Regions from separate parts of the Homo sapiens genome. Here all the other regions are reported to be linked to region 3. The links are microRNA targets in miRTarBase. Many come from high-throughput screens and were not tested one by one. Region 3 holds a microRNA gene; each other region holds the end of a gene's coding sequence.
The links. The annotated mature microRNA hsa-miR-519d-3p reads CAAAGUGCCUCCCUUUAGAGUG and lies in region 3 at 2,281-2,302, shown strand. An mRNA with a match to its seed (bases 2 to 7 or 8) in the 3' UTR can be bound and repressed. Matches are read on the target gene's strand: a 7mer-m8 pairs with bases 2 to 8, a 7mer-A1 pairs with bases 2 to 7 and ends in A, and an 8mer does both.

Region 1 (4,444 bases), not on the chromosome of region 3:
AGACAGGCACATAAATAGCCGCGCCCCCCGCAGTGATGGAAACACCCCCCGCAGTCACGGAGACACTTCAGGTCTGCACTGTCCGGCGGCCACGCGGAGCTGCCGAGCACTTGAGACGTGGCTAGAAATGAGAGAGGAAGCTCTCATTTTAGAGTTGATTCCCTAAGTTGTCAGAAATTCTGGTTAATTTATGTTAAAGTAGCCGCATGTGGCCAGTGGCTGCTGGTTAGCATAGCTCCATAATGTGGCCTCCTGATGGTGATCTGGGTGGGGAAGGGCCCCAGCTGGGCTTCAGAGAGTGGCAGCAGACCCAGCCGTGCCAGATGACCAGTGCGGATGCGCACCAGGAGAGGAGGCCTCGGGGCTGGGGTTAGAGCAGAGCCCAGAGCCCAGAGCCTGGCGGGGGTCCTGCACTTCCCCAGCTGTGTGCCTCGGCCTGGTTACTGACCTGGTAGGTTGGGTGACGGCAAAGCCACTCAGCCCTGTATACAGGAAGGGTTCTGCAGGTGCTGGCTGCCATTGGCCACAGGAGAGCATGGTGGCAAGATTTCCACACACCTAGAGAGCTCCGTGGGGACGAGAGTTGAGAGACCCCCAGGATGTGGCAGAGGCAGCCCTTTCAAGTGAAGGGACGAAGAGATAGGCGGCATTTGGAGGGATTTAAGTGTCTCAGAATGCTAATTTTTTCAAGTAATAGACATTCTTATCTTGCCTGACAGTTAAAGCTCCATGTTTTTCTCTCTTTAAAGTTGGAAAGCTTCAAGGCTCTGTTAATCCAAGCTGTCAAAAAAGCCCAAAAAGAAAGCCCTTTGCCAGGACAGGCGAATGGCGTGCTGATCCTGGAGCGCCCCCTGCTCATCGAGACCTACGTGGGACTCATGTCCTTCATTAACAACGAGGCGAAACTGGGCTACTCCATGACCAGGGGCAAAATAGGCTTTTAGCCGCTGCGTTCTGGGAGCTCCTCCCCCTTCTGGGAGCTCCTCCCCCTCCCCAGAAGGCCAAGGGATGTGGGGGCTGGGGGACTGGGAGGCCTGGCAGTCTTCATGCTGCCCTGCTGCTGCTGGAAGGATGGGGATCTTTCACCTTTAGGGATCTCAGCACAATTAGAATCGTAAAGTGAATTCTATCTATTTAATTGGATATTGGACTCTGCTCATATAAGCTACAGACAAAAGCCAAAAGACTCTCGCTGTCCCTGTGCTGCTGGTATTTCATTCTCTGTAACTTCAGTTCTGGTGTTTTCCTTGAGTATCTACTTGGCTTCTCGTGGTTTTTCCCACCCCAGCTGCCCCAGCACGCGGGACCCATAGCACACCCCTTAGCGCTTGCCTAGGTTGCTGAAAACAGGGAGGCACCTGGTATCTCGAGTGCCTGCAGTTGCAAGTATGTTTACACCTGGTGTCCAATTTTGTATTTTAAAATGTAATCCATTTTTACTTCAGCTCATCCAAAAGCAGCCAGCAGACCGGTTGACTGAGACCGGTCTGTGGCTGTGGGCCCCTTGGTGACCCGCTGCTCTTTTGGAAATGGGTGACCTGAAGTGACACTTTTTCCACAATTAACCCAAGTTGTGTTAATACTTCAGGTCTGTTTCCCAGACCCAGAAAGCTTTACAGAAAATCATTGTAAGACAATTTATTAATTTGAGAAAGTCACCTTGACAGTTCTTTGCACACAAGTTTTACACCTCTCTGGATTCGAAGTTTGTATTGTATTCATAGTTAAAGGGAATCGGGTACTTTGCTTGTTGAATAATGCACTTTAAAACAAGGAACCGTATCAGGCCAGCATGGTGGCTCATGCCTGTAATCCCAGCATTTTGGGAGGCTCAGGCAGACAAATCGCTCTAGCTCAGAAGTTGCAGAGCAGCCTGGGCAACATGGTGAAACCCGTCTCTACCAAACAGACAAAAAGCAGCCAGGCGTGGTGGCACATCTGTGGTCCCAGCTACTTGAGAGGCTGAGCCAGGAGGATCGCTTGAGCCCAGGAGGCGGAGGTTGCAGTGAGCTGAGATGGCACCACTTATTGCACTCCAGCCCGGGCGACAGAGCGAGACTCCATCTACCAGATCCTTATGACGCAGCTGATGCCTGCCTTGGTTCCTACCACTCTGGTGTAGACAGAGGACTTTGTCCAAGTCTCACACTAAACATGCCCGGGCTTCGATGTGCCTGGAGGATTTCCCCACAGGGACCCACGCACCTCCCTGTATCTGCGCAGCTTGCTCGTGTGGCTGGAAGCGCTGTCGATAAGCTTCACGCACTGGCTTGCCAGTTCTTCAGCTCTAGGACTTGTAGCTTTAAGCAAACGGTGTGGCATGGGTTGAGTGTGGCCACCTGCAGGATGTGCAGGGCTGCCTCAGAAGCTGGCTGGGGACTCTAGCCTCTGTGTTCATAAAGACATTAAGAAGTGGATGGATGTTGTTCCTTTTTTGAAGTTGTCATTAAAGTAGGTGCAACAACCAAGAAAGTGTCTCTTCCCTCTTTGAAAGCCTGCCCCATCTCTGCCGGCTCTGCACCTGTGGGCCTGTTCTGCCTGTACCATGCGGACTGCCTGTCACAGCAGTGCCGAGTATGGTTCTCTGCAGAAAGAGATCACGATATGCAACAACCTAGGTTTGCAACCCTGATCCCCCCACCTGTGGTGCCAACCAAGTCTGGCTGCCTGCCGAGCACCAGCTGGAGAGATTGATGGAATGGTTCTGGGTGGTTCTAGGCACTTCCTGCAAATAGCCAGGGTGGAGACCCACGCACACTGGTTCCGAAACCAGAGTAGACATGAGACTTCCTGAGGAACTGACTCAGCTGGTCGGGGACCTGCAGCTCCCATCCCGAGGGGACTGGACCTGGGGGTGGCGCTGCTCTCAGGTGCCAGGGCTCCCTGCCCACACTTCAGACCCACTGTGGGGAGGCTGGATGTGCCCCACAGAGATGCCCCCTCGTTGTCCTAACACATCCAAACAGAGAACCCAGAGCAGGCCGGGTGTCTGGCGGGAGCTAGTGGCCCGGGGCTCAGTTACTGTAGGGCTATCCATCTTCCCTAAGACTGACCAGAACCTCGAACCTAGAAAACCTGCCTGTGACTAAACGTTTCAAGAAGAGAAGTAGTTGTATAAATCAGCAAGTATTTATTTTAAATAATAAAACTACAGTTTTATACCATACATATTTACAAAAATGCTTTGCTATAGAAAAATAGAATCAATCACTGAATCCAGACCACCACAGTGGAGAACCTCCTGGTGAAGCTGTGTTTTTTCCCACACTGGAAACACAGAGTAGCCCTGTTTCTGCACACGTTAGTGCACCGCTGCTACGTGTGGCCGCCCAGCTGTCTGCAGGCTGTGCCGACCACTGCCTCTGTCTCCAGGAAGCAGAGGCAGAAGTGATCCTTGCTGAGGAGGGCCATCGAGTCTCCGCTTAAATGCCAGCACAGAGAGAGCACTGCAAAGTCGCCTAGAGAGAGACAGGTGGCCAGAGGATTACAGCAGGGGAGGCCCAGATTCTGGGGGATGGGCACCCCCTTGTCCTGCAGGCCAGCACAGTGCCTGGAGTGACCCACATAGGCAGAGCCAGGGTGGAGCCCCAGAGCTGCCTCAAGTCAGGGAGAGGCTGCTTCTAGCCCATAAAGCTGAGGGCAGCGGGTCCCCTGTGTGTCCGTCTTGAGGTTTACGCAAAGACTCTGAGGGCAGTTTCCCTGGAGTGCTGCCGGAGACAGCAGCTGGGCTTCAACAGTTCAGCCCGTGTGATGCCAGACTGCACACAGCAAGGCTGCCACGTCCGTGGCCTCGGGGATGTGCTTACCTTCCCCAGGCACCTGCACCGACATGCAGCCCGCTGGGGACCACAGGTAGAGCCTGCTGCCTCCCGTGCAGATGGCCAGCCGCGGCTGCTGCGGGTCCCACTGAAATGCGCGCACTGGGGACAGCTGCTCGAGCACCGCGAACAGCCTCAGCTTCTGAATGTCCCAGACCCAGACGGCATTGGGAATGTTGTCTGAGGAAGGAAGGACAGGGCACCGGTGTCATCCCTGCCTGGCTCCTCTGTGTTGGCCCTGCCCCTCTGCTCTGCTGTTGACACCACAGGAGGGGAGGGGAAGAACCGGTGGGGTGGGGCGGCTGCACCCTGCAGTCTGGGTTCAGTTGGGCCCTGTAGGGCTCCTGGCCAGGGCCAGGGTGGCCATCACGGGCTGTAAGGGGCCCAAATGTGTTTCTTTCTTTGGTATTTTTTTTTTTTTTTTAGCCCTTTACAAATGGAGAAACCCTTAACAAAAGGCGGGCTGCAGTGTGCCCAGCCCTGCTTTCTACTCAGCAGAGTGGAGCAAGTGAGCAGGGTGGAGGCCTCCTGACTCATGCGCGGACCTGCGGCTGCTGCAGGACAAAGGCCCAGCGCCTCCAAGGAGCTTCTGTGAGCACCTCGGCTACTGCAGAAACGTGAAAGGA
Region 2 (4,444 bases), not on the chromosome of region 3:
TAGAGAATTGTTTTCCAGTCTTTTTTTTTTTTTTTTAACAGCCTGTAATTCAGCATAGGCGAAAGTTGAACTGATGAGAGTAAGGCTGGAATCTTATCATTTACTGCCTCCAACACCCCCAACCCCCAACCCGCCATCTATCACTCCAAACTCCTCAAGTGCAGAGCAGCTCAAATGTGGTATCATTACTGATGGGGAGGAGCAGGAAATGCTCAGGCTTCTGTTGCAAGCCAATGTAGGGAACCATGAATTGGAAGGAAAAGCTGTGGCTCTCTCTAAAAGTAAGTTAAAGAGGGTTAGAATAAGAAAACTGCTGGAGAGCTATAGAACTAATCAGTGCAAGCAGAGACCTTTGTGGCCTCCTGTAAATGTTTTTCCTCACGATGGGTATTCTGTAGAGAACAAAAAAAGCTGTGTTCCATTTTGGTTCTATGATTCTTATTTGTTCGGTCTTTACTAAAAAACTCTGATTAAGGTATGTTTGATAATTGGGCATTTCAAATTGTATGTTATGCATGGGCCTACCTTAAACATGTAGTTTTTTTTCCTGTTGTAAGGAGAAAAGAAATATCTTTCACCGTACTTTTCAATTGTATTCAACCCAATAGGCAGGTAAGAAATTGAAACCCATCTGACCACTGAATTGCTTGTGAATTAAAGGTAAAATAAGATTAGAATGTAACTGGCAAAGTATATTGGTACCAACAGATTGCTGCTTTTCTTTTTCTTTTTTTTCCTGTACAAAAAAGAATGATATTGCATTTATATTGATTAATGTAAAATATTTTAGAATATCCTCAATCGGTTAGAATTCAATAATTGTTTATATATCTTACTCTGGATTTTTCTGCCTCACTTTAGTCTTAATTTTCATTTAAAAAATAGACTATAGAGTTTAGATAGGTGTAACATGTATAATTTGGCACATTTATCTCATATTAGACTGTAATTTTGAAAATAGGGATAGCAATAATTTGATGCATCTGGAATTTATATTTCTCATATTGTTGTAGATTTTAACATTGTATTTTTTTCTTTTTTCTTCCCTCCCTGCTGCCTCTCTCCTCTCAACAGTCCTGGTACCTGGGCTAGCTTGGTTCCTTTCCAAGTGTCAAATAGGACACCCATCTTACCGGCCAATGTCCAAAATTACGGTTTGAACATAATTGGAGAACCTTTCCTTCAAGCAGAAACAAGCAACTGAGGGAAAAAGAAACACAACAATAGTTTAAGAAATTTTTTTTTTAAATAAAAAAAAAGGAAAAGAGGAAGACTGGACAAAACAACACAAAGGCAGAAAGGAAAGAAACTGAAGAAAGAAGATAATAGACCAGCAATTGCAGCACTTACAATCACTAATTCCCTTAAGGTTGAAACTGTAATGACATAAAAAGGGTCGATGATATTTCACTGATGGTAGATCGCAGCCCCTGCAACGTAGCCTTTGTTACATGAAGTCCGCTGGGAAATAGATGTTCTGTCTCTATGACAATATATTTTAACTGACTTTCTAGATGCCTTAATATTTGCATGATAAGCTAGTTTTATTGGTTTAGTATTCTTGTTGTTTACGCATGGAATCACTATTCCTGGTTATCTCACCAACGAAGGCTAGGAGGCGGCGTCAGAGGTGCTGGGTGACAGAGCCATGAGCCAGCCATTTTATAAGCACTCTGATTTCTAAAAGTTAAAAAAAATATATGAAATCTCTGTAGCCTTTAGTTATCAGTACAGATTTATTAAATTTCGGCCCTTAACCCAGCCTTTTCCAGTGTGTAACCCAGTTTGAAATCTTAAAAAAAGAAAAAATGAAAAAAAAAGGAAAAAAAGAAAAAAGGAAAAAAACAGTTTGAACACAAAGGCTCTATGGAAGAAATGCCTCTATGTAGGTGAAGTGTTCTCTCTGCATGCAACAGTAAAAATTAATATAATATTTTCCCCACAAAAGAAACACTTAACAGAGGCAAGTGCAATTTATAAATTTATATCTAAAGGGGAATCATGATTATAAGTCCTTCAGCCCTTGGACTCTAAATTGAGGGGATTAAAAAGAATTTAAAATAATTTTGAACGAATTTATTTTCCCCTCAGTTTTTGAGGGCATTAAAAAGGCATTAAATCAAGACAAATCATGTGCTTGAGAAAAATAAAATTAATGAAAACACAGCACTTATGTTGGTTTAGCTGCAGCCTCCTTGGAGGTAGAATTTATTTATTTAAAATTACTGGTTGCATCAAGAACCCATAGGGTGTACAAAAGGTTCTATAAAATCTGCATTATAGAGACAAAGAGGCAGGCAAATCCATGTCACAAGGGTAAAGCTTACAGTTTACAAACTGGGAACGCCAGGGTGTAGGATATAAAAACGCACTCTTGAGAAAACAAATGTAATCAGGGTGCTGAAAACTTGCATGGTGCTTTCAGACATTAGCCTTGTTCAACAAATTTCTTGTATTGACAGATCCATAGTGTGCATGGGCAGACACATTTTGCCTCTATGTCTCTTAAAATTTTAATTAAAAATACTCTTTCCAGTAATCCTAATTTGCACGAAGATATAATGTCCACATTACGTGCCTTGCCTTGAAATCTAAAAAACAAAAAACAAAAAAAAAAAAACAAAAAAATACAACAAAGTGACATCACTACACTTGTTTTGCTGCATTTATTATCATTTTAAATCTTTACCATTTTTATGACAAAATATTTTGTACTCCAGACGAAGAAAAATGTGTGACATCATGGATTTTTTAGACAGTTATACCTTTATCTCACATTTATAAAGCATATCATGGCTGTGTATAGTTGCCGCTTAAAAATTGTAATCGACCAGCAATATTTTCAGTATTTTGGTGTTTTTTTCTATTAACCTTTCATGTTTTTCATCTTCCAATTAATATTTGGGGGGGAGGGGTTTCAAATTTATACGAATTATGCAATACCAAGTTTTGCCTATGTAGGTAGTGCTTTTAGCTGTATTGGTTATTATAGGTAAGTACACAGATTTAAAAAAAAAATAATGTATGCTTTTTTGTTTGTTTGTTTGTTTTAATTGACCAAAGTGGGTACTGCTATTTTTGCAGTGTGATGAGGTCCTTTTGTGTACTGAGAGATGGACAGGGGATTTTTTTTAATATACATATATATATATTCTGGGGTGGGTGGGAGGATTTTTAACACTTTGCAGTGTAGCTGTGAAGCAGTGCACCCTGAGATGGGCCTGGGCTGCAAAGCGACTGTTCTGCCTACTGTGACAAACTTCAACTTACACAGGTTCCCCTCTCTAACTTCCCACCTGGGTTGCAAGCTGAACTCATTACTGGTTTTCATAACAACACAATAGTAAGAACAAGCAAACACAACAAATTCTCCTGGAGGCAGACTTGGCTTAAAAAGGCAGACTTGGCTTGGTGATAGTTTTTCTTGAAAGTTCCAGATCCACAGTGGAGAGTGAGCCTGTCTCATATTTGGCAAAAATATTTGTTGAAATGTCCACATAGGGGATGTTGGATGTTTAACACTTTTGAGAGTTTAACACATGAATATTCTTTCTCCTAGAAAACACATTAGACCTGTTGGAGGGAGTCTCCCGTATTCCTTTTCTGCCACTTTTCGTCCCCATTTCATTTCATTAATGATAGGATATGATTTACCTGTGACTTACTACTTCAAATGGATGGCAGTGCACTTGGATTTTTTTTTAATATCCAGAAGATTGAACAGAGGGTTGCTATTGTTGAATGTATTTGGACTGATAGATTAAAATCAAAGTTCAATTTTTAAGGAACAAAAAAGTAAATCCTGTTTTCATTTTATCTCCCCTTTTAAAACTGAGAACCAGAGCAGAAGGGAAATATAGAATTTTAAGCAATTAATCTTCCTGTGGATGAATTAAACCCATTAGATGCTGATGGGATTTTTTTAAGGAATGGTACCTTAACTATATATTTGATTTCGTTTCCCCTGAGGGCTAGAGGCTGAATGGAGGCTGGTTTTATTTTGCCTTTCCCTCACCGCCCAGTCCCATTGAGTGTATTCATTACTAGAAGGAAAATCTTTCAGAATTGGTGACACATGGTAGGCTGTCTTAAGGAGTCCCCTGGCCCCCTTCCCCTAGGCCATGGCCTAATAAAATAAACTGTCAATTGTTCTCACAGCATATCATTTAATAATGAATACTTTAGAACAATGCTTATGGGCTGGAGAATTGTATTTGATTAGCCCATTCAGTTTGATAGCCCAAATGCTGAACAGCACAGCGGGATCCTAGCAGTGCAAGTTCAAAAGTAAGTCCAATCATTTCTGTGATACTCGCCCTGGTAGCAAACAGATCATCTCAGCCAAGCTCTTCATGTATCTTTGACCTATTAGGTGAACAAATGAACCTCACAGGACACACAGTATTTTTTAAAGGCAGACTCGCTCTCTTTTTTGCCAGTGAGC
Region 3 (4,444 bases):
TAATACATTTGTAGAGCATGCTTATCATGAGGCTTGGACGATGGCGGGGTTCTGTTTTGGTTTTGCTTTTTTATTCTAAGACAGGATCTCTGTTGCCCAGGCTGGAGTGCGGTGGCACATCCAACCTAGGTCTTTTGGATTCAAATGGTTTTTTTAGCGGACAGAGTCTCTCTATCACCCAGGCTGAAGTGCAGTGGTGTGATCTCGGCTCACTGCAACCTCCACCTCCCAGGTTCAAGCGAGTCTCCTGCCTCAGCTTCCCAAGTAGGTGAGATTACAGGTGCCCATCACCACACCTGGATAATATTTTCATTTTTTAAAATTCATTTATTTATGTTTTTGAGATGGAGTCTCACTGTTACCCAGGCTGGAGGGCCGAGGCGTGATCTCTGCTCAGTGCAACCTCTGCCTCCCGGATTCAAGCAATTCTTCTACCTCAGCCTCCTGAGTAGCTAGAATTACGGGAGCCCACCACCACACCTGGCTACTTTTTGTTTTTTGTTTTTTGTTTTTTTTTTAGTAGAGATGGGATTTCACCATGTTTGCCAGGCTGGTCTCAAACCCCTGACCTCAAGTTAGCCACCGGCCTCTGCCTCCCAAAGTGCTGGGATTACAGGCATGAGCCACCACGCCTGGCCTAATTTTTATATTTTCAGCAGAGGCGGGGTTTCACCATGTTGGCCAGGCTGGTTGCGAACTCCTGACCTCAGGTGATCTGCCCACCTCAGCCTCCCAAAGTGCTAAGATTACAGGCGTGAGCCACCACACATGGCCATTAACACCTTTTAGTCCATGGAAATTATTCTGGCACTGATTTATAAAGCCTCATGTGGGGTCAGGTAGAGTCAAAGGGGGACCTCAGTGTCCCTTGCAGATGGGATGTGCTCAGCAAGAGCACGGAGGTGGAGTGCATGGGGTTTGAGTTTTCACTGGGGAAATGAAACCAACATCTTGGGTGCATGACCAGGTCATATATGCAGTCATATATGCAATATGCATGGTGGTGGGTGCCTCTAATCCCAGCTACTCAGGAGGCTGACGCAGAAGAATCGCTTGAACCCAGGAGGCAGAAGTTGCCATGAGCCGAGATCCCACCACCGCATCCAGCCTGGGCGGCAGAGTGAGACTCCGTGTCAAAAAAAAGAAGATCTCAGGCAGTGACCCTCTAGATGGAAGCACTGTCTGTTGTATAAAAGAAAAGATCGTGCATCCCTTTAGAGTGTTACTGTTTGAGACAAGCAACGTTGAAGATGCTGCTGATCTTGGTAATACATTTGCAGAGCGTGCTTATCATCAGACTTGCATGATGTCGGGGTTCTGTTTGTGATTTGAAATTTTTCCAAGACAGGCTTTCTATTGCCCAGGCGTGGGTGGATAGCACCTTCCACCAAGATTTCTTGGGCTTAAGTGGTCCTCTTTTTATTTTTTGATTTTTTGAGACACACTCTTGTTTCGTTGGGAGTGCAGTAGCAGGATCTCTGCTCACCGGAAACTCCACCTCTCGGGTTCCAGTGATTCTCCCACCTCAGCCTGCCGAATTGTTGGGAATTCAGGCATCAGGCACCCACCATCGTGTCCTGCACTCTTGCTGCCCATCCTGGAGAGCACTGGCATGATCTAGGCTCACTGCAACCTCCGCCTCCTGGGTTCGAGTGATGCTTCTGCCTCAGCCTCCCAGGTAGTTGGGATTACAGGCACCTACTGCCCCACCCAGCTAATTTTTATGTTTTTAGTAGAGACGGGTTTCACCATGTTGGCCAGGCTAGTCTTGAACTCCCGCTTTCAGGTGATCCACTAGCCTGTGGTCTATCCTGGAGGATGTTTGTGTGTGTGACAATGTATATTCTTCAACATCTTAGACTCCATTTTGGATGCTCCCATCGGAACTATGTATCCCTGTGCTGGAACTCAAGTGAACACTCAGCTCAAAGTCCATTGCTGTTCTCTAGAAATCCAGCCCAGTTCTCTTGGTTAAATATAAGGTATGTGTAGTAGGCATTGCTTTTTCTCTTTAGAGGCAAAACTCAGGAGGGTTGCCCCTTGATGAACAAGGCTAACCTGCAGAGCCTTTGAAGAAAGGAACTGGAGATGGTCCTTTTAGGGGTTTATGTTCTGGATTCTAGAAAACAGGCAAACAGGGCCAATAAATGCATCTTTATTGTTGTGGCCATTTTAACCTGGTCAAGGAAGATTTCAACAAAAAACCCAGAGTGCTGGAGCAAGAAGATCCCATGCTGTGACCCTCCAAAGGGAAGCGCTTTCTGTTTGTTTTCTCTTAAACAAAGTGCCTCCCTTTAGAGTGTTACCGTTTGGGAAAAGCCACGTTGAAGATGATGCTGATCTTGGTAATACATTTGCAGACCATGCTTGTAATCAGACTTGGATGATGTTGGGAGTCTGTTTTTTTGTTTGTTTGTTTGGTTGGTTTTTTTGTTTGTTAGGTTTTTGTTTTTTGTTTTGGTGTGTGTGTTTTGTTTTGTGTTTTTTTTTTTTTCTAAGACAAGGTCTCTGTTGCCCAGGAGAGACTAGAGAAGCACTTTTTAAGATAGGCCTGTTGGGCTCAGATGGTCCTTTTATGGGATACAGTCTTGCTCTGTGACCCAGACTGGAGTGCAGTGGCGCGATCTTGGCTCAATGCAACCTCCACCTCCCGGGTTCGAGTGATTCTCCTGCCTCAGCTTCCTGGGTAGCTGGGATTACAGATGCCTGACATCACACTCGGCTAATATTTGTATTTTTCTTTTTTATTCATTCATTCATTTTTGAGATGGAGTGTTGCTGTCACCCAGCCTGGAGGGCAGTGGCATGATCCCGGCTGACTCCAACCTCTGCCTCTCAGGTTCAAGCCATTCTCCTGCCTCAGTCTCCTGAGTAGGTGGAATTACAGGCACCCACCACTACAACCAGCTACTTTTTGATTTTGATTTTTTTTTTTTTTTTTTTTTTTTAGTAAAGGTGGGGTTTCACCATGTTGGCCAGGCTAGTCTCAAACCCCTGACCTCAAGTGAGCCGCTGGCCTCGGCCTCCCAAAGTGCTGAGAATACAGGCGTGAGCCACCGGGCACAGCCATCAGCACCTTTTACTTTATGGAAATTTTTCTGGCACTGGTATAGAACCTCACGTGGGGTCAGGTGGAGTTGAGGGGACCTCAGTGTCCCTGCAGATGGGATGAGCAAGAGCACGGAGGTGGAGTGCATGGGGCTTCAGTGTTTATTGGGGAAATGAAGCTGAAATCTGGGTGCATGACCAGGAGATAAATGCATGAGACGGCGGTCTCACTATGCTGCCCTGGCTGAAGTGGGCTTAGATCCTCCTGCCTCTGCCCCTCCCCAGTCCTTGGTAGATGGGACCACATGTGAATATTAACCCCCCATGCACAGACAAGAAGAAAGTAAGGACTGTTCTTTGGTTCATACCTGACCCCAGTTAAACTTGTATTTTAGATAAACAATGTATTTGAGATGTACTTGAACAACAAACGATTTGCTGTTCAGGTGTGGGCATCTTTGTTTTGTTTTTTTTTTTCCTAATTTTAAATATGGGACTAGTGTGCATATGGTGGCTCTTGTCTGTAATTCCTGCACTTTGTGAGGCTGAGACAGGAGGATCACCTGAGATCAGTTGTTCGAGACCAGCCTGGCCAACATGAAGCCAGGAGGCTGAGCTTTCAGTGAGCTGAAATCTTCTGCTGCACTCCACCCTGGGCAACAGAGTGAGACTCAGTCTCAAGAAAGTAAAAAATAGGCCGGGCGCGGTGGCGCATGCCTGTAATCCCAGCACTTTGGGAGGCCGAGACGGGAGGATCACCTGAGGTCAGGAGTTCAAGACCAACAGGGCCAACATGGCAAAGCCTCGTCTCTACTAAAAATACAAAAATTAGCTGGGTGCAATGGTGCACATCTGTAATTCCAGCTACTCCGGAGGCTGAGGCAGGAGAATCCCTTGAACCCAGGAGGAGGAGATTTCAGTGAGCTGAAATCAAGCCATGGCATTCCAGCCTGGGCCAGAGAGCAACATTCCGTCTCAAAAATAAATGAATAAATAAAATAAATAAAAATAAATAGATAAATATGGGACATCATAAATTTGGGTGTCACCTTTGTGTAGCAGCCAGCGTAATCTCTGTCATTCCAATTTTTTTTTATGTGAACTGCCAAAGCAAGCACTTGTGTAGGAATTTTTCTTCCTGTGAGCATACAATATATGGAACTTTCTTTGACACAGGGTCTCAGAAATATATGGTATATATTTCGTTATATATATACTTATATATAATATAATCATATACACACAAAATACTGTTCTAAATACAGAGAATACTCTGATATAACCTTGGGTATTTTTTTCTTTCTTTGTGTGTGTATGTTTTTTATTTGTTTGGCTGGTTTTTTTTTGTTTTTGTTTTTTGTTTTTTGTTTTTTGTTTTTGTTTTTGTTTTGAGACA
Region 4 (4,285 bases), not on the chromosome of region 3:
TCTTAGGGCCTTATCTGTCTTATCAAACTGATAATGCTTTTAACTTTTTTTTTTCATTAATGCATCCTTTGAGGCAAAGGTATAAATTTGGTGTTTTCCAAGTGCCAGCCATTGTGCTAAGCATTATGGATTCAGCTCTAAAGCAAACCTGGTTGGTAGTCTAGTGGAGAATTAGCAAGCAATTACAGTAGATTGTGATTTTTTTGATGTGATTAAGTGCAGAATATTGTGGGGACCTACCTTCTGGAACCTTGAATTTTTGTTTCCATTTTAATTTTTGTGTGTGCTTGTGTATTTACTTGTTTTTGTTTTGTTTTGTTTTTTTTGCAGAATTCTTTGCTCGGCTCAGCACAAATGTGTGCACCTTGGCCCTCAACAGCAGTTTGGTGGACCTGGTGCACTATACACGACAGGGTTTTCAGCAGCTACAAGAATTAACCAAAACACCTTAATGGAGCCCCAGGTTGATTCAATGCCTTGGGAACTATTTTTGCACATTGGAAGCCTCAAAAACAGTCCAGACATTTGTTTCATCAGGACACCAAACTCTAAAAAAGAAGCACCACGAGATGGCCAGGACATTTGTCCACTTAAACTCTCAACAACAGTGTGATCATTGGTTGGACACTGTGGTTATGCAGAAGCAGAGATGAGGAGGCTGGCCCCAGAGATGATCTTGCCCTTCCTAACTAAAGGACAGAAGTGCAATTTAGCTTAAATGGGTGTATGAATGGTCTAGAAACATTTCTATTTTTTTTTTAAACCAGCAGGATACAAGTTGCAAATGAAATGAGGAGAAACAGTTTCAACTCTGAAAGTGAATTTCACGTCATCTCAGTAGCCACGCTAGTCCATTCCCAGAAGGAAATTTTTTTTTTTAACAATGACTTTTGGTAAAGGGTTTTGTGGATGATTTTTTTTCTTTTGAGTTTTGGGAGAAATATTTGTTTAGTAACTTCTAATGGCCATCTGTAAACCATAAGTAATGAAGGACTCCACTGTGCCCCACTTTCTGCCAATGAACAGTGGCTTGATAATACCAAGTATTGTTGTAATTTATAAAATTGAAGGCAACCCCCGCTCCTGCCGCCCCCAATCTCCCCATTGCCTAGAGCGCTGCACATTGACCCCAGCTCTGACTTCTCATTACTGTGCTGAAAGTCAGCCCACGTCGGAGCGGTGAGGAGGAGCCACAGCACATGGGGTGCCACCTCGAGGTCTGCACAGGAGGACTTGGCGCTGCCATTTCCTACCCCTGCCATTTCCCACCCCTGCTTCAGCGAAAGGGACTCTCTAACAGGGCAGTCACTGTTGACTCTATTCTGAATTTCCTCCCTTGGGGAAGAAGGGAACCAACATTTATACCTGACCAGATGGCTAAAGTGCTTTTAAAGTTTTGTTTAAGTAGAGCTGGAATTTGAGGTGCTGATCTGTGGTCTACAGTTATGTGGTAACTCATGTTGTCCAGCCAACTCAGAGTTTCGTCAGTGAACAAGAAACATGAAATCTGCTTCTTAGAGAGGCTATATTTTTCTGCTACAAATATTTTATATTTATAGCAAAACTAGACTTTCAGAGTCCTTGATTGTCTAGGGGAAGTTAACTCCCTGAGAGGATGTAGAGATTTGGGGTGGTTGATTAGACTTTTGAAAAACTCATCACCACATGCCTTCACTCCAGAGTGTTCTCAGCTAGATTTGATTTGGTTGAGGAGGAACTGTGGCCCTCCGTAAGTTATTGCCATAGTGTATGCATTAAACCAAGTCCATTTTGAATGACCTAAAATGAAGTAACACAATCAGAAATCCCATGTGCCCATAAGCACAGATTTTTCTTTTTCATTGAAACTTTAAAGGTTATTATTGGAAACATTACTTTGAGTGCAGTGTTTTTAAAAGCCAATTCTTTTTTATCCCTTTTAGAAGTAGAATTTGCACACTTACTACAATTGAGGAGTGTCATCTCTATAACTTTTTCTCCGCCTTTGTCCCATTCTGCCCCTGTACATGTTTCCTACCAAGCATGTTTCACATTTTCCTATTAGTGGAGGAGGGAGAACCATATTTATTTATAATGAAGACATCTAAGATCCCTATGATGAATGCAGGAACTCTCTTGGTAGTTTGTAAATACACAAAGGGATGTGTCGAGGGATGGGAGCGATGCTTATCTCTCACAGTGTGAGTGGTCTGTGTGAGGCTGTTCCTTCAGTTTCTTCTCCAGACTGTTCTTTGGTTGTCACTAAGTCAGAGGTCTGGTCCCTCATGTTTAGGTGAAAGCCAGAGAATGACAGCTGTAGTCATATCTGAGCATAAGACCTTGATGTGTGATTCCTGATGACCGGTTTCATTTATTCATGTTATAAAGCAAAGCCCTGGTCCTTTTTAAACTACTAGTTTTAAAAACCTGTGTTAAATGAACAGTAATTGCCTGGTAGGTTTGGTGTGTGTGTAGCATTGTGTGTCCATCTGTTATATGTAAAGGACAAGGCACCAGAATCAGGCTTTATTTCGATATTGAAGATGTTATTTAACATCTTTCTTTTTTCCTTACTCCCTTAGCCATCCCCTCCCCTTTTGTCCTATCATTCCCTAGAACAAGCCACCTGTCAATTGTGAAGGGTTGTGTTCTTTATGGCAGGTTCTATGCAGATTGTGCCAGAGCATGTGCGTGTTCTGTTGGCAAGCCACAGTGCTCCCTTGACTGAAGACATTTCCAGGTAGATTTCTCAGCCAGCTCTAAAACAGATTGCTTTTTCAGTGGCCTTACTCTTTGTGGGTTTTTTTTTTTTTCTCTGAACTTGATATAAAGATTTTATTTGTCCCTTGAAAAAGTAACAAATGTGCATAGATCAATTTGTACTACTTTGGTCATTGGATATTTCTGATCCTTATTGCATTGTACCTAAAGGAGAGTAACTAATGGTAACCTTTTTAATAGAGTATGTGAAAGGTAGTGGCTGATGAATCCTTAACGTTCATAGGGTCTTTTTGCTGTTACGGTTGTATATAGAGGTCTGAAGGATTTTTAAAATGATTTGCACTTTTTCACTGCATGCTTACAATTCCCAAAGGCAAAATCTGTACTGAGGTAGATCATTTGAAAGGGCTAGATTATAAAATTAAGCCTTAGAGTATGGAAAGTTCTTATAACAATAATAGTACACACTTCAGAGTAAGACAAATGCAAAGCATCTTAAGGAGTGAAAATAGAGTGTAAATCTTGCCTTTGGCACTACAAGGTGTGTGTGTGTGTGTGTGTGTGTGTGTGTGTCTTTAGTAGGAAATGGAAGAACACTGTTTTATTTTTTAAAGTGTTTAATGTTTCTGTCCTTTCTGTGAATTATTGAATTTAAGAGCCCTGCTAAATAATGAAAAAACACTTTACTAAAATTTATCAAATTATACTGGGTTCGGATTGTGAAAACATTGGCCACCTAGTAGCAGTGGTGAGGAGTGGGAGGGCCCAGCAAGCATTTATCAGAAATAGAATCACAATAGGAGGAGAATTTGACTGTCTGATATTATGATTTGATTACAATACTGAATGGGAAAAGTATCTAATATTTTGTAACAAAAAGACCTTCATATTATCTGTTTTGACCAAAATATGTAGCTATTTCCCTTACACAGATTGGACCGCACTTATCTCCCTTGTCCTGTATCCTTTAATTTCAGGTCTCAGGATGTTTAGAAAGCTAAAACCCCCTACCCCTTTCTGGCTGAAAACTTGCCTTATTTGGTATCTTACACATTAATGTTACTAGCATCAGGAGCTTACTGTTTTATTATGATTCATCTTCAGTAATTTTTAGAAGCAAGAAGAAAGCCATTGTGTCCTCTACAATTAACAAAACTTATCTCTGATATACAAAGGGATATAAATATATACACTTAAATAGAGAAAAAGAGGTTGATTGAATTGTGCCTTTGAGTGAACCCAGTTTTTAAATACCGCTGTGTTTGTTTCGCCATGGCTTCAGGGATGCTACATGGCTCTTGCACCTTTTACTCCTCTGCTTTATGAAGTTTGAGTTGTATTTGTGCATCTTAAAGTAGGTTGAGGCTTGAGGCTGGGCTTTCGGGTTTTTTTGTTTTTTGTTTTGTTTTGTTTTGTTTTGTTTTCTTGTACTTAAACCTGCTTGCTTCCTACCACAGATTCTTTATTTTCCCAAACACTACAAAAAAACTTTTAAAACTTTGCCATTTCATCTGTTTACACTCTTTGCCACTGATTAGCAGTATTTAAATCTTGCAAGAATATTTTGTGCTTTCTTTAGAAACAC
Region 5 (3,000 bases), not on the chromosome of region 3:
CAGAGCAATTCCTACTTCTCCCTCATGAGGAATTGGAGGAGGTGGTGATAAAATTCTTCATCTGGTTGTGAGGTGGTATTTCACACAACTCCTTGATAAATATTGGAGGTGATACTGGATACAGGAAAACTTACAATAATCAGATTGTTACAGGTAGTTAGGCATCAACAGGGCAGCAGAGGGCTCTCTCCCGACCCACTAGAAATGTCAGGTGATGGTTCAGCAATTAACAAATTGCCTCTCTAAGAATGAGAATTCGGCAGCCAGGGAGAGACAATCTCTTGATGGTCCACACCTGTTAACATTAAAAGTGTTAATTGAATACAGCCCCCCAAGCAGCAGCTTCTTGGGCACCCGTGTTAAGAGACAAATGGCGAAGTATAGGCCGGGCACGGTGGCTCACACCTATAATCCCAGCACTTTGGGAGGCTGAGGTGGGTAGATCACCTGAGGTCAGGAGTTCAAGACCAGCCTGGCCCACATTTTATATTTTTTGTATTTTTAGTCTCTACTAAAAATACAAAAATAGGCATGGTGGCACGTGATGGCGTGCGCCTTTAGTCCCAGCTACTCAGGAGGTTGAGAAAGAAGGATCACTTGAGCTTGGGAGGTGGAGGATACAGCGAGCTAAGATCATGGCACTGTACTCCAGGCTGGCTGACAGAGACTCCAAAAAAAAAAAAAAAAAGAAAAGAAAGGCCGGCACCGTGGCTCATGCCTGTAATCCCAGCACTTTGGGAGGCTGAGGCGGGCGGATCACGAGGTCAAGAGATCGAGACCATCCTGGCTAACACGGTGAAACTCTGTCTCTACTAAAAATACAAAAAATTAGCTGGGCGTGGTGGCGGGCGCCTGTGGTCCCAGCTACTTGGGAGCCTGAGGCAGGAGAATGGCATGAACCCGGAAGGTGGAGCTTGCGGTGAGCCGAGATCATGCCACTGCACCCCAGCCTGGGCGACAGAGCAAGACTCCATCTCAAAGAAAAAAAAAAAGGAATTTATAATTATATATTATTCTGTATCTTTATATATTAATTATATATTCTATAATTTTTTTGAGATGGAGTCTTGCTCTGTCTCCCAAGTTGGAATGCAGTGGTGCAATCCCAGCTCAATGCAACCTCCACCTCTGGGGTTCAAGCGATTCTCCTGCCTCAGCCTCCGGCGTAGCCAAGACTACAGGTGCATGCCACCATGCCCGGCTAATTTTTGTACTTTTTGGTAGAGATGGTGTTTCACCATGTTGGCCAGTCTGGTCTTGAACTCCTGACCTCAAGTGATCCTCCTGCCTTGACCTCCCAAAGTAATGGGATTATAGGTATGAGCCACCACGCCAGGCTATATTCTATAAATTCTAAAGAGAATGAAAAGGACTTGCCAAGCTTCCTTTGGGAGATACTAAATTTGTTTTTTTTTTTTTTTTGAGACGGAGTCTCGCTCTGTCACCCAGGCTGGAGTGCAGTGGCTTGATCTTGGCTCACTGCAAGCTCCGCCTCCTGGGCTCACACCATTCTCCTGCCTCAGCCTCCTGGGACTACAGGTGCCTGCCACCACACCCGGCTAATTTTTTTTTTTTTTTTGTATTTTTAGTAGAGACAGGGTTTCACTGTGTTTGCCAGGATGGTCTCGATCTCCTGACCTTGTGATCCACCCGCCTCAGCCTCCCAAAGTGCTGGGATTACAGGCGTGAGCCACCACCCCTGGCCCAAATTTTTTTTTTTTTTTTTTTGAGACAGTGTCATACTATGTCATCCATACTGGAGTGCAGTGGCACCATCATTGCTCACTGCAGCCTTGACCTCCCTGGGCTCAGGCGATCCTCCCACCTCAGCTTCAGGAGTAGCTGGGACTACTGGTGTGTACCACCATGCCTGGCTAATTTTTGTATTTTTAGTAGAGACAGGGTTTTGCCATGTTGCCCAAGCTGGTCTCAAACTCCTTGGCTCGTGATCCTCCTGCCACGGCCTCCCAAGTGCTGGGATTACAGGCATGAACCACTGTGCCTGGCCTAAATTTACTTTTATAACAATTACTTTTTAAAATGTCAGAACTTCCTTATAATTACACACATATATTTTTATACAAATGCACAAAGGTAATCACATCTTATCTGGATTTCTGTGTGCACCTTTTCTTAAAAATGTTAACAATCACATATAACCTCGTAGAAATTGTTTTCGTTTGCAGATGCCTCCTTTTTCATAAAATTATGTCCTTGTTTTATAATGCTGTCTTTTCCAATATAGCTGGGATCACGCCACTGCACTCCAGCCTGGGTGACAGAGCAAAACTCCATCTTGGAAAAAAAAAAAAAAAAGAAAGAAATATAATTGGTGATGCTTCTGAAGAGAAAATCCTTTGTGGTTCTTCATATTCCTAACTTGCATGACACTCTTGCTCAAAGAAGGATACCTGCTCCTAAAACCCGTCTACCAGCGGGTCTGGCTACTGTTGCTGTGGATTCCTGGGCAATACCAATCCTGCTCAACGCTTTGGATGTCCCACTCTGCCTCAACTCCAATCGGCCTCTATCATTGCAAACAGTTGGCTGAGCCTTTTCTTAATGTCCAGTTCATTTGGAGCAGGACAGGATTTTGTGTGTACTCTGATGTGCTCCGCAAGCTTAGACTTGTAAATGAAGCCCTTCCCACAATCGCCACAGGCAAAGGGCCTCTCGGGCCTGTGGATGCGCTGGTGCCTCAGCATGTGTCCCCTTTCCCGGAAGTTCTTGTCACACTCAGGGCAGTGAAAAGGCCTCTCCCCTGTGTGCAGGCCCTGATGGCTGAGCAGCTGCGCCTTCAGGCGGAAACTCTTGTCACACTTGGGACACTGAAAAGGCTTCTCTCCCGTGTGCGTTCTGATGTGCTCGATGAGCTTTGAGTGTTTCACAAAGCCCTTGCCGCACTCACAGGAGAAAGGCATCTCCCCGCTGTGCAGCAGCTGGTGGGCCTTCATGTCGGCCTTCACGCGATAGCGCTTGTCGCACTCCGGACACTGGAAG
Region 6 (3,663 bases), not on the chromosome of region 3:
TTGTGTGCAAAGTTCAAAAATGTTGTCTATGCATCTATGCCTACAGCTCTGCCTTCCTGGCCAGGACAAACTTGGTGGCCGTTTGTGGGAAGTCCTGAGCTGGTGCTGGGAGGAAGGAGGGAGGTTCCCCTTCATGCTTTTGTGATTGTACCCTTCTCCTCTTCTTCAGCCATATTACACGGCACGATTTTAACATACTGTCCACAGGAGTCACAAAGCAGGAAGCCACAGTGGAAGGGTTAAGCAGGAAGCCTCCAGAGATTCAGGGGGAAGGGATCAGTTCCAGGCCCAGCAGGGGCTGCAGGTCTCAGCCTGTGCACTGGCAGGAGTACTCAGTGCGGAGGATGGGAGGGCACGCCTTTGGCAGGAGGCACATGTGGAGAGGGCGCTCGAGGGAGTAGGGCAGTGTGGTTCCCAACACGCCAGGGGACGGGCGGGAACAAGAGCCCCAGGCCTCCTTGAGGGGCTCTAGTGAGACAGATACTGCCACATGGTCACAGAAGGAGGCCCAGCTGTGTCACATCCCACAGAAGGGTCCAGGGTGGCAGCGGAGCGGACAGTGGGGTGTTTTAGCTGCGTCCTGGGAAACAGTCAGGTTGTCCAGAGGGAGGGAAAGTGTGTGGCAGGGCCGCAGACACGGATGCCCCCACGACTTGGGGCGCAGCGGCTGGAGGAGGTGCCCTGTGGAACGGGGGATGATAGACGCAGGGACAGCAGCCAGGCTGAGGAGGGCCCGGGTGCCTGTGGAACTGCCGAGTCCACCCTCTGGGCAAAAGAACAGCACCAGGTGACGGAGGAGAGTGGAACCTGGAGGCCAGCACGCGGAGTGCAGACACGCCACTGCCAGGGCGGGGAGCTAGAGGGGTCCGGCCGCGTTTCTGGAAACGGAGCCTGGAAGGGAGGCAGTACTTCCATGAACACCAACACTGCTATCAGGAAGAGGGACAGACCTGATCAGGAGTGGGAGCAGGGAAGGAAATGGCAGGTTTCACCAAGGGTCATTGAAATTCTGGACGCACACTCAAACGTGTCACTCACACCACGTCCCAAATCCCCCCAGTTTGTCACTATGGTAAATAGGAAAGCGTTTATAATACTTTGTCATGAAGATGCATATTATGCTCTTCCTTATCGAAGAATAAAAATGTCTCTGCTTTTTCTCCAAGAAAAAACTAAACACTCCCACAGAGTAAATGGCAATTAGGCTGAATTACGGCAATTCTTGCTGTGAGCGCAATGTCATTATGCTGGGACTTAACTGTCATTACACTGTAAATATACCTATCCCGGGGGCAATGCTTGCCCACACGAGCTTGCTACCTTGGCATCAAAGATCTCACTTCTTTTGACTCTTGGGTTATATTGCAACTGTGCTGATTTATCCTCTAACTAGATTGATCCTGGAACCCCAAGTTGTGCCACAGCCCCACGCCAGGCAGTTGTTAAAATGCAGGTTCTATGGGGCCTGGGAGGGGACATTTCTATCCAGGAGCCAGACGCGGCCCAGGCCCGGTTTGAAGACCTTTGTTTTGAAGAACGTGGGGTCAGCGAGTTGATGAGGAACAAGGACGAGCTCATCTGAGGAAAAAACGGAAGGAAGCACTTGAAACCGGGTTTCGTTTCACTCCCAAGCTGCGGTCCACAGAAGCATTTCCCTCAAATAACTTGAAAAACTTTATGAATCGTGTTTAAGTTTTTTACTCTCCAAATGTAATACAATTCTTCAGCTAAAACAGGAATAATGAGACAAAATGGTTCGAAAAGTACAATAGAAAAATATTGTTCACTGGTTTATTTTTCCAAATGAGCATCAGGCTATTTACAAATACGCAGCCCTCCAATGACGTGTATTAAAATGGCAAGTCTATCACTGTTTGAAATCTAAATGAAAACAAATTTATTAAGGCACATTTGATCTGAGAATTTAACTTTCTGGTATAATGACAGATTCATTTCACTTTTGTCCCCAAAACACATGAGCACCAAAATTGTCAAAGAACACTTAATATTTAGTAAAACAGTAAGGAATATAAAAATTAAGGAGGGGAAAAAGCGTTTCCAAAAGGAAATCTTTGGAGATCGGTTTACTGCAAATAAAACAGACTAAACACACTCCCGATACACATAAATAATACTAACTAACAGGTACTCAAGAAATGGCAGAGCTCTGAACAACAGATATTAAATAAATTAAAGGTATTTCAGATACAAAGGATAAAACAAAACAGTAATGAAAGAATGAAAACCATCTCCACCCACATAACACAGACAGGATGAAAGGAACAAAACCAAATACATTTTTCCCCAACGTTTTGATTAGGGTGTATGTGTGTATGTTTCAGTCTGTGTACATCAGATTTATTGTAATAATTCATCTTTGTCATTCTAAACATTAATATTTTACCCTTTAAAGAGAAGGGTCAAGAAGAGAAAATGCCAAATCCTTCTTGAAATTTAATGCCAGGTCTATTTAGGCCGAATGAACTACCACGAGAACAGCCACATACCTCACTGTGCCTTCTTCACGCCCCTTGCTTTAAAACCTACGTGGCCAGCTGGGCTTGCATGGTGAAACCCCGTCTCTACTAAAAATACAAAAAAACTAGCTGGGCGTGGTGGTGTGTGCCTGTAATCCCAGCTACTCGGGAGGCAAAGGCAGGGGAATTGCTTGAACCAGGGAAGTGGAGGTTAAAGTGAGCCAAGATTGCGCCACTGCATTCCAGCCTGGGTAACAGAGTGAGACTCCGTCTCAAAAAAAGAACAAAACAAAACAAACAAAAAACCTACGTGGCCATGCTGAGCAGAGTACCATGAGAGGAAATGATCAACTCTGGAAAGCTCTCCTGAAGACAATGATGAAACAGCTATTATCACATTTCCTTATCTTACAACTGGAACATGAAATGGCTTTAAAACAATTGTAAAAAAAAAAAACAAAACACAAAAGGTAGAATCTGTGGAATGTTAACAATCACAACAGAACATTTACCAGAGTTACAGTGTTTTGTTACAATAATACTTTGCAGGAATGTTCACGTTTTCTGCCATAGGACTGGAGCAAAGGGTCTCAAAAGAAAACATTTTTTTAAAAAAGTTTTGTTCATCAGGTACATTTCAAGTCAAAGTTAAGCAGGTCTGCTACATAATGTTCAGCAAGAAGATGTGTTCAAAGGCAAACACTGATCACCTTCTTGTTCAGAAAGCTCAATCTTAAAGGAGTCCTATGTAAGAAAACCACTTGTAAAATATATCCTTGTATACGGACTTCAAAAACTGATCATACAAAAAATTTTTGAAAAATAAATTAGATAATTAAAAACGTCTTTTCCAGCAAAGCTGGACATTAGGCTGTCCTCACTGAGCCATTATTATTGCTGCTTTTACTGTAACTTGGATCATTTTTTTCCAGCCACATCTCAGCCAGCTGCTGGGTGGACCCATAGGTCGATGCTTTGGACCCCAAGCACATTTTGTACTGTTTGGGGTCAAGATTGGGATCACAAAAGACAGGATGGTGGACGTGGACTACTCCTACTTCCTGGCTCCTAAACGTCTTCAAACCTGCCTGGACAACCTTGTTGAAAAGGTCCACATCCTCCAGCCCCCAGCCTTGGATGGAAACATCAAAGCCACCCACTCGGACAAGATCTCCCTTATAAATAC
Region 7 (3,248 bases), not on the chromosome of region 3:
TATGACTTTGGCTCTAAGAGAACTTTTATGAGCAGAAGGACTCCCTAACCCTCACACCTGTAGGGCAGTCTACCACTCCTGCCTGTTTTCTGTGCCCTACTCACAGTTTGTGTTGAGTTGGGAGCTATGTGCAGAAATTCTATATGGTAAGTCTGGCACTCGGATTTCCTTGCCTATCTTCTGCTACCCCTGCCAACAGGGAGTAGAGACTTAGATCAAATTTCCTGATCTAAGATTCATATACCTAATCAGATTTTGAGAGTAACTTATCTCTGTATTATGTGTATATAATAATAATATGTGTGTAGGTAGGTGTGTTAAAAAGTCTATAATGCATAGGGAAGATTTGAAGTCAAATATATTGTTAAGATTTCCCACAAAGGTTTTGTATAATTAATAGGGGGAAAAAAGCAAGACCTTCATCAATAGAGCAGAAGGCATACGCTGAAACTCTTTTGGCTATAGAAAACCCAGGAGAAATAATCACACAGCCCAAATGCCCAGAAAAACTATAATTAAAATCAAGGGTAGAGAAAATTTCAAGAAAAAAACTAAGTACTAAATAAATCAATGCATGTGGAAACTAGATAGCTTACAGAGATTTACTTAATGCTACACTTATTTAGCCTCCATTTGTCCCTTTTTAGGAACAGGCCCGAGTACTAAAGGAGAGATGCCAAGGTGAAAGTACCCAACTTCAAAATGAGATACAAAAGCTACAGAAGACCCTGAAAAAAAAAACCAAGAGATATATGTCGCATAAGCTAAAGATCTAAACAACAGAGCTTTTCTGTCATCCTAACCCAAGGCATAACTGAAACAATTTTAGAATTTGGAACAAGTGTCACTATATTTGATAATAATTAGATCTTGCATCATAACACTAAAAGTTTACAAGAACATGCAGTTCAATGATCAAAATCATGTTTTTTCCTTAAAAAGATTGTAAATTGTGCAACAAAGATGCATTTACCTCTGTACCAACAGAGGAGGGATCATGAGTTGCCACCACTCAGAAGTTTATTCTTCCAGACGACCAGTGGATACTGAGGAAAGTCTTAGGTAAAAATCTTGGGACATATTTGGGCACTGGTTTGGCCAAGTGTACAATGGGTCCCAATATCAGAAACAACCATCCTAGCTTCCTAGGGAAGACAGTGTACAGTTCTCCATTATATCAAGGCTACAAGGTCTATGAGCAATAATGTGATTTCTGGACATTGCCCATGGATAATTCTCACTGATGGATCTCAAGCTAAAGCAAACCATCTTATACAGAGATCTAGAATCTTATATTTTCCATAGGAAGGTAAAGAAATCATTAGCAAGAGTAGGAATTGAATCATAAACAAATTGGCTAATGAAGAAATCTTTTCTTTCTTGTTCAATTCATCTAGATTATAACCTTAATGTGACACCTGAGACCTTTAGACAGTTGACCCTGAATTAAATAGTCACATGGTAACAATTATGCACTGTGTAATTTTAGTAATGTATAACATGCAATGATGCACTTTAACTGAAGATAGAGACTATGTTAGAAAATTGAACTAATTTAATTATTTGATTGTTTTAATCCTAAAGCATAAGTTAGTCTTTTCCTGATTCTTAAAGGTCATACTTGAAATCCTGCCAATTTTCCCCAAAGGGAATATGGAATTTTTTTGACTTTCTTTTGAGCAATAAAATAATTGTCTTGCCATTACTTAGTATATGTAGACTTCATCCCAATTGTCAAACATCCTAGGTAAGTGGTTGACATTTCTTACAGCAATTACAGATTATTTTTGAACTAGAAATAAACTAAACTAGAAATAAAATAAGTTTCACTAGTTTTTTTATTTCCATTTTTTTTTTTTTAGTTTTTCACCAAATAATAAGGTTTGAGTCTTTATAGCAGTGGTTGGCTAACTTTTCTGTAAAATACCAGATAGTGATTATTTATGGCTTTGCAGGTCAACTGTCTCAACTACTAAACTCTGCATACAGTACAAATGCAGCCATAGACAATACATAAGTAAATGGGTGGGGCTATGTGCCAATAACACTTAATTTTCAAAACCAGGTGGCACACACAAGCTATAGTTTGCAGACCTTTGTTTATAGAAACATTGGTCAAAGTTTCATTTTATATCTGCCTTATTTTACTTACATTTATAAGAATCATAAGGATTAGATTGTATATGTTAGAATCTTGAAATAATTATGTAGTGTTTCAAAATATTACACGATGAATCCCAAGAGGACCCACAGACCCTCTGAAGGAGGCAGACTGCTCCTGCAGGACCCAGGAAACACTCCAAATATTCTGACTGCCCCAACTGCAGAAGTGGGAAAGGGAGACCCTCCTCTCTGGAACACACACCCCCACTGGAGAAGCTGAAGGTTTGTGTGCAGGAGGAGTTTCCGACTTTACCTGAAGCTGAGTCAAGTTAGAGAGCCGAGCAAAATACAGGGGTAGAGGAAGCAGTTGGAAGGCCCTGGGAGCTCACTGTGTCCCCAGGCAGGCCATTCCTGCCTGGCACCACAGGGATCTATCGGGAGGTCAGCCAGAGGAGCAACAGGTAAAACTCCACAGAAAGAAGAAATTCTCCAACCAAACTTTGTAACAATTTGAATGGGGCGAGAAGCCTCCTGCCAGAACTCGGGGAGGGCACAAATCCAGCATGCAAACTTCACAGGCTGGTGAAGAACTAAAGTCCTTTTCTTTTTGGCTGAGCAGAAAGCCTCAGCCAAATTTTAAGCCCGCCCCTCTTGCCCTCTGCCTGGAAACAGACTCAGAGCTGTTGGCAGGGAGAAGGGCACAGTGGGAGTGAGACCGGCCTTCCAGTTTGCATCGGAGCTGGGTGAGGCCTGTGACTGCCAGCTTCTCCCACTCCCCTGACAACCTGCATGACTCAGGAGAGGCAGCCATAATCCTCCTAGGTACACAACTCCAGTGACCTGGGAATCTCACCCCCATCCCCCACAGCAGCCATAGCAAGATCCAGCCATGGAGAGTCTGAGCTCAGACACTCCTAGCCCCGCCCTGACCTGATGGTCCTTCTCCATCCACCCTGGTAGCTGAAGACAAAGGTCATTTAATCTTGGGAGTTCTAGGACCCTGCCCACCACCAGTCCCTCTCCCACTGATACTTTCTGGAAAGTGCCACCTCCTTTCAGGAGGCCAACCAGCACAAAAATAGAGCATTAAACCACCAAAACCAAGGACCCTCATGAAGTCCATTTCACCCTCCACCACCTCCACT

Region 1: miRTarBase lists TPRG1L as a target of hsa-miR-519d-3p. Seed matches in the 3' UTR shown: 8mer at 1,760-1,767.
Region 2: miRTarBase lists NFIB as a target of hsa-miR-519d-3p. The part of its 3' UTR that is shown has no 7-base or 8-base seed match.
Region 4: the mRNA of AFF1 is a reported target of hsa-miR-519d-3p. Seed matches in the 3' UTR shown: 7mer-m8 at 3,040-3,046 and 7mer-A1 at 3,380-3,386.
Region 5: miRTarBase lists ZNF786 as a target of hsa-miR-519d-3p. The part of its 3' UTR that is shown has no 7-base or 8-base seed match.
Region 6: the mRNA of CHSY1 is a reported target of hsa-miR-519d-3p. Seed matches in the 3' UTR shown: 7mer-A1 at 2,690-2,696.
Region 7: the mRNA of GBP3 is a reported target of hsa-miR-519d-3p. Seed matches in the 3' UTR shown: 8mer at 1,511-1,518.

Annotation. Positions count from the first base shown.
Region 1 is chr1:3,627,660-3,632,103 of GRCh38, forward strand. TPRG1L (tumor protein p63 regulated 1 like) reads left to right here. Exons shown (of 5, transcript NM_182752.4): 5 at 750-2,468. The coding sequence ends at 944. It overlaps WRAP73 (WD repeat containing, antisense to TP73), which reads right to left. Exons shown (of 12, transcript NM_017818.4): 11 at 3,807-3,998; 12 at 3,111-3,458. The coding sequence ends at 3,316. Among named protein-coding and RNA genes, the nearest start is that of TPRG1L, 4.9 kb to the left of the region's middle.
Region 2 is chr9:14,084,957-14,089,400 of GRCh38, reverse strand. NFIB (nuclear factor I B) reads left to right here. Exons shown (of 11, transcript NM_001190737.2): 11 at 1,075-4,444. The coding sequence ends at 1,092. Among named protein-coding and RNA genes, the nearest start is that of LINC00583, 160 kb to the right of the region's middle.
Region 3 is chr19:53,711,120-53,715,563 of GRCh38, forward strand. It overlaps MIR519D (microRNA 519d), which reads left to right and starts at 2,228; the gene lies at 2,228-2,315. It overlaps MIR517A (microRNA 517a), which reads left to right and starts at 1,149; the gene lies at 1,149-1,235.
Region 4 is chr4:87,135,250-87,139,534 of GRCh38, forward strand. It overlaps AFF1 (ALF transcription elongation factor 1), which reads left to right. Exons shown (of 21, transcript NM_001166693.3): 21 at 331-4,285. The coding sequence ends at 452. Among named protein-coding and RNA genes, the nearest start is that of KLHL8, 83 kb to the right of the region's middle.
Region 5 is chr7:149,067,913-149,070,912 of GRCh38, forward strand. ZNF786 (zinc finger protein 786) reads right to left here. Exons shown (of 4, transcript NM_152411.4): 4 at 1,729-3,000. The coding sequence ends at 2,511. Among named protein-coding and RNA genes, the nearest start is that of ZNF786, 21 kb to the right of the region's middle.
Region 6 is chr15:101,174,045-101,177,707 of GRCh38, forward strand. CHSY1 (chondroitin sulfate synthase 1) reads right to left here. Exons shown (of 3, transcript NM_014918.5): 3 at 1,683-3,663. The coding sequence ends at 3,344. Among named protein-coding and RNA genes, the nearest start is that of LRRK1-AS1, 24 kb to the left of the region's middle. RefSeq lists an enhancer at 267-1,153.
Region 7 is chr1:89,005,252-89,008,499 of GRCh38, reverse strand. GBP3 (guanylate binding protein 3) reads left to right here. Exons shown (of 11, transcript NM_018284.3): 11 at 648-1,820. The coding sequence ends at 776. Among named protein-coding and RNA genes, the nearest start is that of RBMXL1, 14 kb to the right of the region's middle.